4 linked regions of the Homo sapiens genome follow. The protein of the gene in region 3 interacts with the protein of the main gene of each other region in a biochemical or structural test. Each region holds a gene or a part of one and is shown on either strand. Other genes may lie near its edges.

Region 1 (3,500 bases), on a different chromosome or scaffold from region 3:
AAATGCAATCCAGGCACAGGTTTACCACTACTACAACGTGATGTCAGCATTATGCAAGGAGAGGCAACAGTCTGAAAAGAAGGCCTAGAGCTGCAACTCCTGAGGTCACAGGCGGAGATTAAAAAAAACAGTTTGGGAGGTTAGAAGCTCCTGTTTGTGACTTCAAATGAGGGTTGAATGTGAAAGAAATAAAGGCTGTGAGAGTGAGATTAACTCAAACCAAGGTGCAAGGTCCATGTGGACTGGGTAAAGACAGGGAAAAACAAGGCCCTGGAGCGGGTTTAACTGAGGGGCAGCACTGTAGATGCACATTTATCTGGGACTCATGAGACTACTTCAGGTCACTAATGGGTTGAAGGTTCACTCATACAGCTATGATCTGAAACCAAGTGACAGATCTTGTACCAGACATAAAATGATTCACTTCGCAAACAAGGAAGCTGAGGGAGCTAATTCAGTCCTGGCCCGGGGTGGAAATAGTATAAACTACTCAGAAAGAAGAGCTCCACGAACCAGAGTAAGCTGGGAGAGACAGAAGGAGACTAGAACAGAAAATATCTAGAAAAGACCAGATTTTATTGTTTATGTATCAAGGTTTCCTTGCACTGTGAACAAAACAGTCTGCATAGGTGAAGTGACCCCATGTTAGCAGTAAGTAAACACTATGGGGTTGGGAAGAAAGCTCCCCAGGAGACAACGATTCTGCATCTCTTGGCTGCTGTAGAAAGTTCTTCAAGAAACAGGCAATGGGGGCCTGATCTAGAAGTCTTCCCAGAAGAGCTACCCTGACCATGCCTGCTGTGGCTCATTCACATTACACAATTCAAAGTTGGCAAACGTGGTGACTAAGCAAGCAAAAAGCTTGGCTAAAAACTCACATATTCAAATCGATCCTTGCAGAGCTGAACCATCAGGTGCAGAAAGACAAGTCCGGCAAACCAGAGGCACCACATGACCACCTCTTCCACTGTCTGGACATTCAGCACACCAAAGATGAAAATGAACTTGTAGAAAATAAAATTCCAAAATTTGTCTTTGAGATGCTAAAAAAGAAAAATGTTTATGAAGGTGAGTACCATCACACCTACCCCATTTGAGGGAAGTTACCATAACAAAAGCCGGCTTCTATGGAAGATATATTCTGCACTTGGCTTTCTAATACTTGTCCTCAAGAAAACAGAAAAAAAAAAAAAAAAAAAAAAAGCAGCCATCTGAAGAATGGAGGTAAGACACCCAGAAACTAATCTGTAAACTTTGGACTATAACCCTAAATCAATTATGGAATGTTAGCTATTCAAAGGATAGCGATATTAGTTTAGTAACTTATATATTAAGAAATAGGCCAGGCGCAGTGGCTCATATCTGTAACCCCAGCACTTTTGGAGGCTGAGGTGGGTAGACAGCTTGAGCTCAAGAGTTTGAGATGAGCCTCGGTAACATGGGGAAACCCCATCTCTACCAAAAAAAAAAATACAAAAATTAGCTGGGAATGGTGGTGCACACCTGTAGTCCCACCTACTCAGGAGGCTAAGGTGGGAGGATTGCTTGAGCCCAGGAGGTCAAGGCTACAGTGAGCCATCATCATGCCACTGCACTCCAGCCTGGGTGACAGAGCAAGACCTTCTCTCAAAAAAAAGAAAAAAATGCTTACATTTTTAATGCACAATGAAAAAGAATGGCAAGGGCTATCATTTTTACTACTTCTACCTTCCAGATTCTTACACAATAGAAAAGATTAGACTTTGTAAAAAAAATTCTTCAAATTAAAAAATAACACAACACAACCACTTGCCAGCCCATAATAAAGGCGGCATAAAAAGTACAAAGAAAATGAAAAATGCTGCCTTAACATTTTTATGAATTTTCTTGTCTTTTCCCTATGTACAAAACACATTACTTTTTGTACAATGCTTTCTTTCACCTATTGTATTGTTAGAACCTTAACAATGTCAATGAATATTCTCTGAATATACCAATATACCGTTTCAATGGCTAAAGATGGACACTGAAACTGTTTTAAAATTTTCACCACGCAAAAAAAACATTATAATGAGGGCCGGGCGTGGTGGCTCATGCACGAAATCCCAGCATTTTGGGTGGCCAGGGCAGGCGGATCACTTGAGCCCAGGAGTTCGAGACCAGCCTGGGTAACATGGCAAAATCCTGTCTCTACTAAAAATACAAAAATTAGCTGAGCATGGTGGCACAAGCCTGTAATCCCAGCTACTTGGGAGGCTGAGGCATTAGAATTGCTTGAACCTGGGAGGTCGAGGTTGCAGGGAGCCATGATCATGCCACTGCACTCCAGCCTGGGCAACAGAGCAAGACTCTGTCTCAAAAAAAAAAAAAAATTGTGATGAATATTTTTGTATGTATCTTTGTATGAGTTACTTCAGCACTGTCAAATCAAAAATTGCAAAGATTTTTATGGTTTATAGTAAAATCTACCTAACTTCCAAAGCAGTCCTGTAAGTGTACATTCCCATGGGCAGTGTGTATGCATATTTGCTTCACTGTACTCTTTTACACAGAGGGCTTCCAGTTTTAACAATCTTCACTAACCCTGAAATAGGAGAGCAATAAGGAGGGTCTAGTTCCCCCACATGTTAAAATAGACTATCAAGCCGTCTAGGGGGGTCAGGGAGAACTGACTGAAGAGGATAAGAATGGAAGCATGATTCTAAGTATACTTTTTTTTTTTTTTTTAAAGAGACAGAGTCTCACTCTGTCATCCTGGCTGGAGTGCAGTGGCCCAGTAGTAGCTCACTGCAGCCCCAAACTCCTGCGCTCAAGCGATCCTCCCACCTCAGCCTTCTGAGTAGCTGGGATTACAGGCACATGACATCATGCCCGGCTAATGTTTTTTATATTTATATTTTGCAGAGATGGGGCCTCCCTCTGTTGCTAAGGCTGGTCGCAAACTCCTGGGCTCAAGTGATCCCACCTTGGTCTCCCAAAAGAATGCTTTTATATGTAATTTGGAACCATGTAAATGTTTCACAAATTCAAAAAATAAACACAAAAAAGCAAAATATACTACAAATTAACAACGTGACTCCTTAAAGATTTTGAGAACTTAAACACACTGTACTCTGACCAGATATCTTTTGTAGAGAACAAAATAAAGTGGAAAAAAATCATAGAGTATGCCCTAATTCTATCCATCAAAAGGGCAGAGACACCCTAGTGGTAATGAGCACACTCAGCCAGTATACAGCTTGGCTTCTAAATATCATTGCCCAATAACGTGAACTAGGAATCGTTGGTGAAATGTCTGTTTCCAGACCTGGTGCAGGGAAAGTACAAGGTGAACTTAGGACATTTTGTGCCCTGGTTTTGAATGACACTGCCACTTGGCTCTGCCATTTAGTTTCTGTGTGACCTTGGGAAAGTCACTTAACATCCCTGTGCTTTAGTTTCCTCATCCATACAATAGGTCTTATAATAACAGCATATACCTCATAGAATTGTTGGGGGAATTATACATAATATATGTGAAA
Region 2 (3,500 bases), on a different chromosome or scaffold from region 3:
TGGATCACTTGAGGTCAGGAGTTGGAGACCAGCCTGGCCAACATGGTGAAACTGTTTCTACTAAAAATACAAAAATTATCCAGGCATGGTGGTGGGCACCTGTAATCCCAGCTACTAGGGAGGCTGAGGCAAGAGAATTGCTTGAACGCAGGAGTTAGAGGGTATAGTGAGATGAGATCAGGCCAACTGCACTCCAGCCCGGGCGACAGAGCGAGACTCCGTCTCAAAAAAAAACAAAAAACAAAAAACAAATTGGGGGGAGAAAAAAAGCTACAGAATATACAGATTACAATTTCATTTAGGTTAAAAGAAAAAAATAGGTAAGTATAATAGATATGCACATTGATGTATATATTTTCATGTATGTATGCATGTATGTAGCATGTAATGAAACAGAAAAGAAACTGGAAGGACATCCAAACTGCAGAATGTAGTTTAATGGTTTAAGATGCAGGATCAGACAAAGGGAGAGCAAGCCTGGAATTAGAAACCAGAGAGAGATGGGACCACTGAACTACAGGCACACAAAGCATCAAGAACTCCAAGAAACAGAGACTGTCGGCACAAATTCCATCGTTTGAAATTACAGTACACAGTTCAAACATATATAGTTCTTAGAGATGATAATCATGAGAACTACAAGAATTTAGGTCAGATCAAAGAAACTAACTTTAAAATATCTTTGGCTGAGTAAAACAAAAAAATGTGAAGCACACCCAGACTACACCAAAATGTCTATGATGGTTACTTTTTAGTAATCAGATTATAAATAATAGTTTGGGGGTGAGGAGGGATTTCGGTATCTCTCCAATGTTTCATAAAATTATTGGCAACAAAAAATATTACACTTAAAAATTTTAATGCACATTTTATCATATCTCCACATTTTCTGTTAATGAATTGCTAGTAACTTCTACAGAACATCAAATACAGAATTCAAGAGCTGATTTTCTCCTTGCTTTCACTTTTTTTCTCAAAATTCCTCAAATAGATGGATACTTACAGGAAACTTAAAACCAGCCTATTCACAAAAAACTACATATTTTGTAGACATTTTATTTTATACTATAAAAAAAAATCTTATTTATTTTTTCTTGAGACAGAGTCTCGCTCTGTCGCCCAGGCTGGAGTGCAGTGGTGCAATCTCAGCTCACTGCAACCTCCACCTCCCAGGTTCAAGCAATTCTCCCGTCTCAGCCTCCCAAGTAGCTGGGATTACTGGCGCCCGGCACTACACCCGGCTGAAAATATCTTAAACATTTTAAAAGTTAACAAAATTTATGATAGCCCCCCTCCCCTCACAAACTCAAAAGAATACAGTCTGCAAAAATTAACTAACGTCTGTATAGACAAGATATCCGAAGTTGTTCTAATAAAGCTAAATCAGGGCCCTTGACAAGTTTTTAGAAGTAAAGCTACCTTACCCAACAAGCCTGAGTTCTGGCCAAATTCAAAAGGGCAAAATTTAATGTGAAATACAAAGGAAGGAAACCAGGAAGAAGTTTTTAACAGGGAGAGGATTACTTCATTTTGTCAAATAAATTATTGAAGTAATCTTTCCAAGGTAGAGTCTTTGCAGAGAAGCTAGTATACACTTATATTTACTGTATCAACCATCACTAGACCAAGGTGGTCGATGTGACACTAATAAATAACTATACCAAGTACGCTGAAATATTTTCTACAAAATTCAAGACTGGCATTAAACTCCTTAAGAAAATATTTCTCACTGGCAAGATCTGTTTTATAAATATAATTAGTTCTCCAAAGGTTTTTCTCTTTCTAGTTTATTCCATGTGCCCGGACTCCCTGTTCAAAACAAAAACGAATAAGCAAAAAAAACCAAAAACAAAACAAAACAAAAAAAACAAGTCAGTTCAAACATGACTGGGCAACCACAAACCTAATGGAAGGTTTCTGCCAGCTTTATTCTGGTCATATCTTGTCTGTAACATTAAACCTAAAGTTCTGGAAGACTTTTTTTTTTTTTTTTTTTGAGACAGAGTCTTGTTCTGTTGCCCAGGCTGGGTGCAGTGGCACCATCTCGGCTCACTGCAACCTACACCTCCCGGGTTAAGTGATTCTCCTGCCTCAGCCTCCGAGTAGCTGGAATTACAGGGGGATGACACCATGCCCAGCTAATTTTTTTATTTTTAGTAGAGACAAGGACAGGGCTTCACCATGTTGGCCAGGCTAGTCTTGAACTCCTGACCTCAAGTGATCCACCAGCCTCGGCCTCCCCAAAGTGCTGGGATTACAGGCGTGAGCCGCCACGCTGAGCCTCCTGAAGATTTAAGGAAAAAAAAAATCGTTCTAGAAATACTGGTCAGAAAGTATTTGAGATGGTCAGGGAAAAGAATAAGACTTAAAAAACAAAAGAAGGGCCAGGTGTGGCAGCTCACACCTGTAATCCCAACAATCTGGGAGGCCGAGGCGGCAGGATTGCTAAAGCCTTTGAGTTTGAGACCAGCCTGGACAACATAGTGAGATCTCGTCTCTAATAAAAATAAAAATTATAATAAAATAAAATAAGAAGTACTGGGACACATGGCTATTCAGCTGGTAACTTTGTCATGGATAAGCAAATAATACTCCTTAATCACACAAAAAAACATAATGTTGAGTGAAAGAAGCCAAACAGAAATGAAAGAGTACAGGCCGGGCGCAGTGGCTCACGCCTGTAATCCTAGCACTTTGGGAGGCCAAGGCAGGCAGATCACCTGAGGTTGGGAGTTCAAGACCAGCCTGACCAACATGGAGAAACCCCATCTCTACTAAAAACACAAAAAATTAGCCAAGTGTGGTGGTGCATGCCTGTAATCCCAGCTACTCGAGAGGCTGAGGCAGGAGAATCGCTTGAACCCGGGAGGTGGAGGTTGCCGTGAGCCAAGACTGTGCCATTGCACTCCAGCCTGGGCAACAAGAGTGAAACTTTGTCACAAAACAACAACAACAACAACAAAAGAATGAAAGAGTACAAACTCTACTGTTCCATTCATATAAGGCACAAAATTAGGCAAAATAAATCTATGGTGTAAAAAGTCAAGAGGTGGTTTCCTGTGAAGGGGGCGGCTCCTTGTTTCTTCGATCTGGGAGGTGGTTACAATAGCGTTCCTTTTGTGAAAATGTCAAGCTGTACACATGATTTGAGCACTTTTTCCATATGTATTTAGGCTAAATGTCAACAAAATAGTTTACATTTAGAAAATAAAAGTCCTAATATTGCTCTAGGTATTCTCCTAGAATCTCCTTGAACAACAGCCAGATGCTAATATCAGCTAACACTTCACAGCATCTCTCCTCTCTTTCCCTCTGCACAGTTCTTCAACCTGTCTCTCTCTACTACCCATTTGCTCCAGCAACACTCCTCAGGTCCTAGAGCAGTCCAAATTCATCCCTACTTCATGGGGCCTTTATCTGGCTGCATCTTCCATCTAAGATGTACTCCTTCCCCCTTCAAAGGGCGAGCTCCTTATCCTTGGACACCAGGTCTCCCTTCC
Region 3 (3,500 bases):
GCTTTTCTTTCTTTCCAGGAAAGGAGAGTACTGGCTATCTGGACCTTGTGAAAAGATTTTTAGTACACTACTTAGCTTCTTGATTTCATGAAGAATTCATTTTGGTTTCTAATATACTGATATGGTTTGGATCTGTGTCCCCACACAAATCTCATGTTCAACTGTAATCCCCAACGTTGGAGGTGGGGCCTGGTGGGAGGCGACTGGATTATGGGGGTGTATCCTTCATGAATGGTTTAGCACGACCCCTTTGGTGCTGTTCTTGTGATAGAGTTCTCATGAGATCTGGCTGTTTAACAGTGTGTGGCACCTCCCCCATCTCTCTCTTGGTCCTGCTACTGCCATGTGAGACAGGTGGCTCCCCCTTTGCCTTCTGCCATGAGTAAAAGCTCCCGAGGACTCCGCAGAAGCAGATGCTGCCATGCTTTCTGTATAGCCCACAGAACTGTGAGCCAATTAAACCTCCTTTTTTTTTGAGACGGAGTTTCACTCTTGTTGCCCAGGCTGGAGTGCAATGGCGCGATCCCAGCTTCCTGCAACCTCCGCCTCCCGGGTTCAAGCGATTCTCCCGCCTCAGCCTCCCAAGTAGCTGGGATTACAGGCATGCACCACCAAGCCAGGCTAATTTTTGTATTTTTGGTAGAGATGGGGTTTCTCCATGTTGGTCAGGCTGGTCTCAAACTCCCGACCTCAGTGATCTGCGCATCTCGGCCTCCCAAAGTGCTGGGATTACAAGAGTGAGCCACCGCACCTGGCAAAACCCTTTTCTTTATAAATTATCCAGTCTCAGGTATTTCTTTATAGCAGTGCAAGAATGGACTGATACATATACTATACCTTCTTCTGTAAAGATAGTAACTCTTATTTCTATAACCTGTATAGTCTCTTCACTGAACTTTTACCTATATATATTCTTCATCAGTATTACTTTTTTTTTTTTTTTGAGACAGACTCTTGCTCTGTTGCCCAGGCTGGAGCACAGTGGTGTGATGTTGGCTCACTGCAACCTCTCCCTCCCAGGTTCAAGTGATTCTTGTGCCTCAGCCTCCCGAGTAGTTGGGACTATAGACACACACCACCCTGCCCTGCTAATTTTTGTATTATTGGTAGAAATCAGGTTTCACTATGTTGGCCAGGCTGTTCTTAAACTCCTGACCTCAAGTGATCCACCTTCCTTGGCCTCTCAAAGTGGATTACAGTCATGAGCCACTGCGCCTGGCCAGTATTACTTTTTCACTAGTGTTACAGCAACAGTTACTTTCACTTCTAAAAACATATAATCAAATGGCTTTATGGCACACTTATCTGCTTCCCTTCAGTTTTTTTCAGTGTTTTTGTTTTTGTTTTTTAAATATTTAGGTCCCCATCACGGACCTTCAAAGTAGAGTGAATACTGGGTCAAAATTTCTGTCCTTGAAGACAGACTATATGTTAAAGGAATAATATCATATACAGGATTAAGGCATTTCATAGAACTACTTGCCCATACATTCAATTTACAAAAAGGGACTCATTAAAACCTTAAATCTGAGACAGTTAATACAATCAAATTCAACAAAATGGCACTGCAACTATTTTAAAGGATAGCTATCCAGATAGAGAGAACCTAACAAATCAGACTTGTAACAGTCCTTATCATTTGGAATAGCTGAAAAAAAATCAACGCTAGGCAAGGGGAAGAACAAAAAGAGGTATGGCAATAATTTCAGCTATCTTGTGTCTCCAACACCTCACCCCACCAAACACACACCTCTCACACAATTCTACTTATCTTGGTCCCATTACTAGATTTACATCTCTATTGCTATTTGGTGAAGGAAGTGCAACCAATGGGACCCTCACCAGGCCAGGCACAGGTCCACAAACACTTTCTCAAGTAGCTCTTGAATTGTAAGGGGGCCTACCAAAAGAAAAGGGGACACTTCTCTAAAAAACTATTTCATTAAAGTTGTAATAACTTTAAAAAAATGTGGTTCTCTGGCATCCTGTTTTTATTTCTGCCTGGGACTCCAAAAATTTTAAATTAATGTCTCAGAGTTTTGTTTGCTTTAAAAAATTAATTTGTGGCCAGGAGCAGTGGCTCACACCTGTAATCCCAGCACTTTGGGAGGCTGAGGCGGGCGGATCACCTGAGGTTGGGAGTTCGAGACCAGCCTGACCAACATGGAGAAACTCCGTCTCTACTAAAAATACAAAATTATCTGGGCGTGGTGGTACATGCCCTATAATCCCAGCTGCTCAGAAGGCTGAGGCAGGAGAATGGCTTGAACCCGGGAGGTGGAGGTTGTGGTGAGCCGAGATTGCGCCACTGCACTCCAGCCTGGGCAACAAAAGTGAAACTCCTTCTCAAAAAAAAACAAATAATAATAATAATAATTTTTTTTTAAGATTGAGTCTTGACATCCAAGTGATAACATGACAAATACCCAACACTTTTGACAACTGTGCCTTTATCCCCAGTTTTTGGAGTACTTACAAGGAACCAGTTAACTGTCTGTTTTTGCTTCTTTAATCTTCGTAACAACAATGAAATATGTATTATTGTTCCTTTTCTACAGATGAAAAAACTGAGGAATACAGGGGCCAATGTGTCTCTAGCCTCATTTAATAAGAGGTGGATCTGAGATCTGAACACAGGCAATTGGATCTAGAATCTATGTTCTTTACCATGAAACTATGTTGCTTCCTGTCTAAATACATGCATTAAACAAATGGTAAATTATAAGCAGATAATTTCTACTTAATGGTTCAAATGGTAAATTATAAGCAGATAATTTCTACTAAAAATACAAAAATTAGCCAGGCGTGGTGGTGGGTGCCTGTAATCCCAGCTACTTGGGAGGCTGAGGCAGGAGAATTGCTTGAACCCGGGAGGCGGAGGTTGCAGTCAGTCAAGATCACACCATTGCACTCCAGCCTGGGCAACAAGAGCGAAACTCCCTCTCAAAAAAAAAAAAAAAAAAAAAAATCACACACCACATTTCACCACACAAATACCAAAACTAACATTGCTTGTCTATTTCTGGACACTCAACATACTTTTATATGTAACTCTTGTTACAGTGTATATGCCTTTTTTCTTTTTTCTGCTTTTCTCAAGCACAGTATTTTCCTATTTTCACAATATTTGTAAAGATCAATACTTTTTTTTTTTTGGAGACAAAGTCTCCCTCTGTCACCCAGGCTAGAGTGCAATGGTACCATCTTGACTCACTGCAACCTCCGTCTCCCGGGTTCAAGTGATTCTCCCGCCTCAGCCTCCTGAGTAGTTGGGACTACAGGCACGCACCATCACACCTGGCTAATTTTTTGTATTTTTAGTAAAGATGGGGTTTTGCCATGTTGGCCAAGCTGGTCTCGAACTCCTGGTCTCAAGTCATCTGCCCATCTCAGCCTCATAAAGTTCTGGGATTACAGGCATGAACCACTATGCCTGGCCAGGGTCAATACTCTTTTAAATGCATGTGCTGGAACCGATCTATTTTTTCCTCTACTGTAAG
Region 4 (3,500 bases), on a different chromosome or scaffold from region 3:
CGTTCTGCCACCCAGTGCAGTGGTGCGATCTTGACTCACTGCAACCTCCACCTCCTGAGTTCAAGTGATTCTTCTGCATCAACTGGGATCATAAACATGTACCACCACATCCAGCTAATTTTCGTACTTTTAGTAGAGACGGGGTTTCACTGTGTTAGGCTTGTCTCGAATGCCTAAGCTCAAGTGATGTGCCTGCCTCAGCCTCCCAAAGTGCTGGGATTACAGGCATGAGCCACCGTGCTGGGCCGATACTAATTTTTTAAGTTCAACTTTCTTCTATGGAAGCTGTGTAGAATTTAAATCTCAATTCTTAAAAGGAATGAGGAACTTAAATAACTTCATTTTAGGTAAAAACTAAAAGAAATTTGCAACAAAAAGCCAAAAAAAAAAAATCTCAAACTGCCACAAAATTTCAGCTTCTGTATTTCCAAGACATTCTGTTATTGTACCTGATCATGTATGTCAACCATGACTGCATTCTGCTGGGGTGGATGAGCAGCAGGATGTAGCAGACGGGGAGATACATTCGGAGGGTGGAAGGCTCGAGGCTCCTCTATTGCTTGCTGCTGTGCGTAAGGGAGATGGTGATAGTTTTCATCTTGACTAATGGAATTATGTCGAGACAGACGATCCCTTCTTCCTCTCTGGCGCCTGACAGGAGGACTGTGATAAATATCAAAAAGAAAGTCATTATGCTTATTGTGATCCATCAGGATTCTGTATTGTCTTTCTTTGATATCTATCAATAGTATATGCTAAGGTAAGCTTCATTATTAAATAACTGCTAAAATTCCCCATCAGCTCTAAAAACTTACAAATTTAAATACAAGGTATATGTTTTATACAATAATGAAAGCAAACAGTATTGGTATTCATCTCTGAAAGTATTTAGAAATCAACAGCTACAATTTTTTCTTGAATCATATGAAATTGCCCTTTTTATAAGTGAAAAATAGTCTAATAGCAACAATTTCATATAATTTAACCTACCATTTTCTCCCTTTTTAAATATTATAATAAAACGAACTTTAATCTGTAGATACCTTGTCAGTGTTCCTCATATACCTAATAGGCACCTTTTTGTCTATTTAGCTAACACATACATAAGACATAGTTCCTATGTGGCCAAAATGACACTTTTAAAAAATGAGAAAACATGAAATAACCAAAGAACATATAATTTGCTGACAACCGCAAATAGAAACTGGGTAAACACGCGATGAATATGATTGAGAATATGATAGTATCAACATAAATATTCCAAGAATATATAAAATTTTTAACTTTTAATTTTTATGGGTGCACACAAGGTATATATACTTACATAGAATTTTAAATTAGAATTTGCTTGTTGGGCCAGGTGCAGTGGCTCATGCCTGTAATCCTAGCACTTTGGGAAGCTGAGGCAGGTGGATCCCTTGAGCCCAGGAGTTCGAGACCAGACTGGGAAACATGGTGAAACCCTGTTTCTACCCCAAAATACAAAAAATTAGCCGGGCGTGGTGGTGTGCACCTATAGTCCCAGCTACCTGGGAGGCTGAAGTGGGAGAATCACCTAAAGCCTGGAAGGCCGAGGCTGTAGTGAGCTGAGATCACGCCACTGCACTCCAGCCTGGGCGACAGAGTGAGACCATGTCTTAAAAAAAAAAGAGAGGGAGAGAATTTGCTTATTGAAGCAACCCACATTTACTCTCCATGTACTAGTCATCGACATAGTTTAATAAAAATTTTATTGTGACTAAACTTTCATTTTGTTCTTCTCTGAAACTGCTTTTTACAATGGCTCAGCACAAAAGCAACTTGAAAAAGTACTCTGCCTCATTAAAACTGTACTCTACATTGGGCAAAGGAGGTCAAACATCTCCCTTCTAGGAAGAACTCCAAGTGTCATTTTAGCAACTTTCTTTATGGTCACTTTTTCCTTAATCTTCCCACTCTGTTCCTCTAAATCTGTTTCTTCTTACTCCTAATTCTCCAATCTTAAGAGAACAAGGGACATTCCTTTATGAGATCAACTCGCAAAGGTGCTCTTGATATTGTCCCTCCAGCTTCTTGCTCCATTAATTGTTTCTTCTAACTTTATTTTTAATACAATCCTTTTTGCATTTTTGCTTCAAACTCTACTTACTGTATTATATTGAATTCAAGACGCCCTCCACCTTAGGACTAAAAGCTTTTTTTTTTTTTTTTTTGAGACGGTGTTTCACTCTTGTCACCCAGGCTGGAGTGCAATGGCACGATCTCTCGGCTCACTGCGACCTCTGCCTCCCAGGTTCAAACGATTCTCCTGCCTCAACCTCCCAAGTAGCTGGGATTACAGATGTCCACCACCAAGCCCAGTTAATTTTTTTTTTGTATTTTTAGTAAAAACAGAGTTTCACCATGTTGGCCAAGCTGGTCTCGAACTCCTGACCTCAGGTGATCTGCCTGCCTCAGCCTCCCAGAGTACTGGGATTATAGGTGGGAGCCACTGCACCTGGCCTACATTATTTCTTTTAAATTTTTCTCGTATTGCCTTCTTCTGGAAATATTAGACATTTAGAACTTATGACTCTGTGTTCATACTTAAATTTACTTTTCCACATTTTTTATTTTGCCCCGTTACACTACATTCTGGGAAATTTCCTCCACTTGATCTTCCAGAATGAACTCACTTTTTCTTTTCTTTTTTTTTTTTTTGAGACAGAGTCTCGCCCTGTCTGCCAGGCTGGAGTGCAGTGGCCCGATCTCGGCTCACTACAACCTCTGCCTCCTGGGTTCAAGCGATTCTCCTGCCTCAGCCTCCCGAGTAGCTGGGACTACAGGCGTCTGCCACCTTGCCTGGCTGATTTTTGTATTTTTAGTAGAAACAGGGTTTCACCATATTGGCCAGGCTGGTCTTGAACTCCCGACCTTGTGATCCGCCCACCTCAGCCTCCCAAAGTGCTGGGATTACAGGCGTGAGCCACCGCGCCCAGCTGAATGAACTCACTTTTTCTATTTATTAAGTTTTACCAGCTAACATTTCTAGTTGATTTTCATGAGTACAATATCCCTCATCCCTCTCCCTCTTACATCTCACATGTACTCTAAAATTCGATCTTGCTTGTTCTATTGTTTCTTGAAGTTTATTGTTAATTGAGTTTAATGGCCCTGTTTATTCACAGTTCTTTGTTTTATTGCATTTATTAATAGTATCCCTCTTTCACTTCATTCGTTTTTTTCAAATACCTAGCTTTGTGCTCACCTCTGTAACTGAAATCCTGCTAGATTATTGTTAAAAACTGCATCTGCTTGGCACAGCCTGTTTCTGGGAGAAAATCTGGCAATATGCTTATAGGTAACCTATATTAAGTAGTAAACAAGAACAGAATACAGAGTAAGACACACTGCTGAAAAAAACACTAGGAGAGCCAGTTTTCAGGGTGGTAAATACTCTCTACTACTCTTTTGTCTTGCTATGAACGAGGACCATGATGCTTTTCAAAGAACTCAAAGCTAATTACTATTATCATCATCTG

Evidence for each region. Proteins that work in one complex are often made in the same cells at the same time.
Region 1: the proteins of UBE2D2 (region 3) and AMFR form a complex in vitro, tested with the Homo sapiens proteins (3 studies listed by BioGRID).
Region 2: the proteins of UBE2D2 (region 3) and SIAH1 form a complex in vitro, tested with the Homo sapiens proteins (3 studies listed by BioGRID).
Region 4: the proteins of UBE2D2 (region 3) and RNF38 form a complex in vitro, tested with the Homo sapiens proteins (3 studies listed by BioGRID).

The regions. Positions count from the first base shown.
Region 1 is NC_000016.10:56,408,546-56,412,045, forward strand, and holds part of AMFR (E3 ubiquitin-protein ligase AMFR), read right to left. Parts: intron 1,044-3,500; coding exon 879-1,043; intron 1-878. UniProt on the Homo sapiens protein: E3 ubiquitin-protein ligase that mediates the polyubiquitination of lysine and cysteine residues on target proteins, such as CD3D, CYP3A4, CFTR, INSIG1, SOAT2/ACAT2 and APOB for proteasomal degradation.
Region 2 is NC_000016.10:48,375,414-48,378,913, forward strand, and holds part of SIAH1 (E3 ubiquitin-protein ligase SIAH1), read right to left. Parts: intron 1-3,500. UniProt on the Homo sapiens protein: E3 ubiquitin-protein ligase that mediates ubiquitination and subsequent proteasomal degradation of target proteins.
Region 3 is NC_000005.10:139,616,839-139,620,338, reverse strand, and holds part of UBE2D2 (ubiquitin-conjugating enzyme E2 D2), read right to left. Parts: intron 1-3,500.
Region 4 is NC_000009.12:36,369,270-36,372,769, forward strand, and holds part of RNF38 (E3 ubiquitin-protein ligase RNF38), read right to left. Parts: intron 664-3,500; coding exon 450-663; intron 1-449. UniProt on the Homo sapiens protein: Acts as an E3 ubiquitin-protein ligase able to ubiquitinate p53/TP53 which promotes its relocalization to discrete foci associated with PML nuclear bodies. Exhibits preference for UBE2D2 as a E2 enzyme.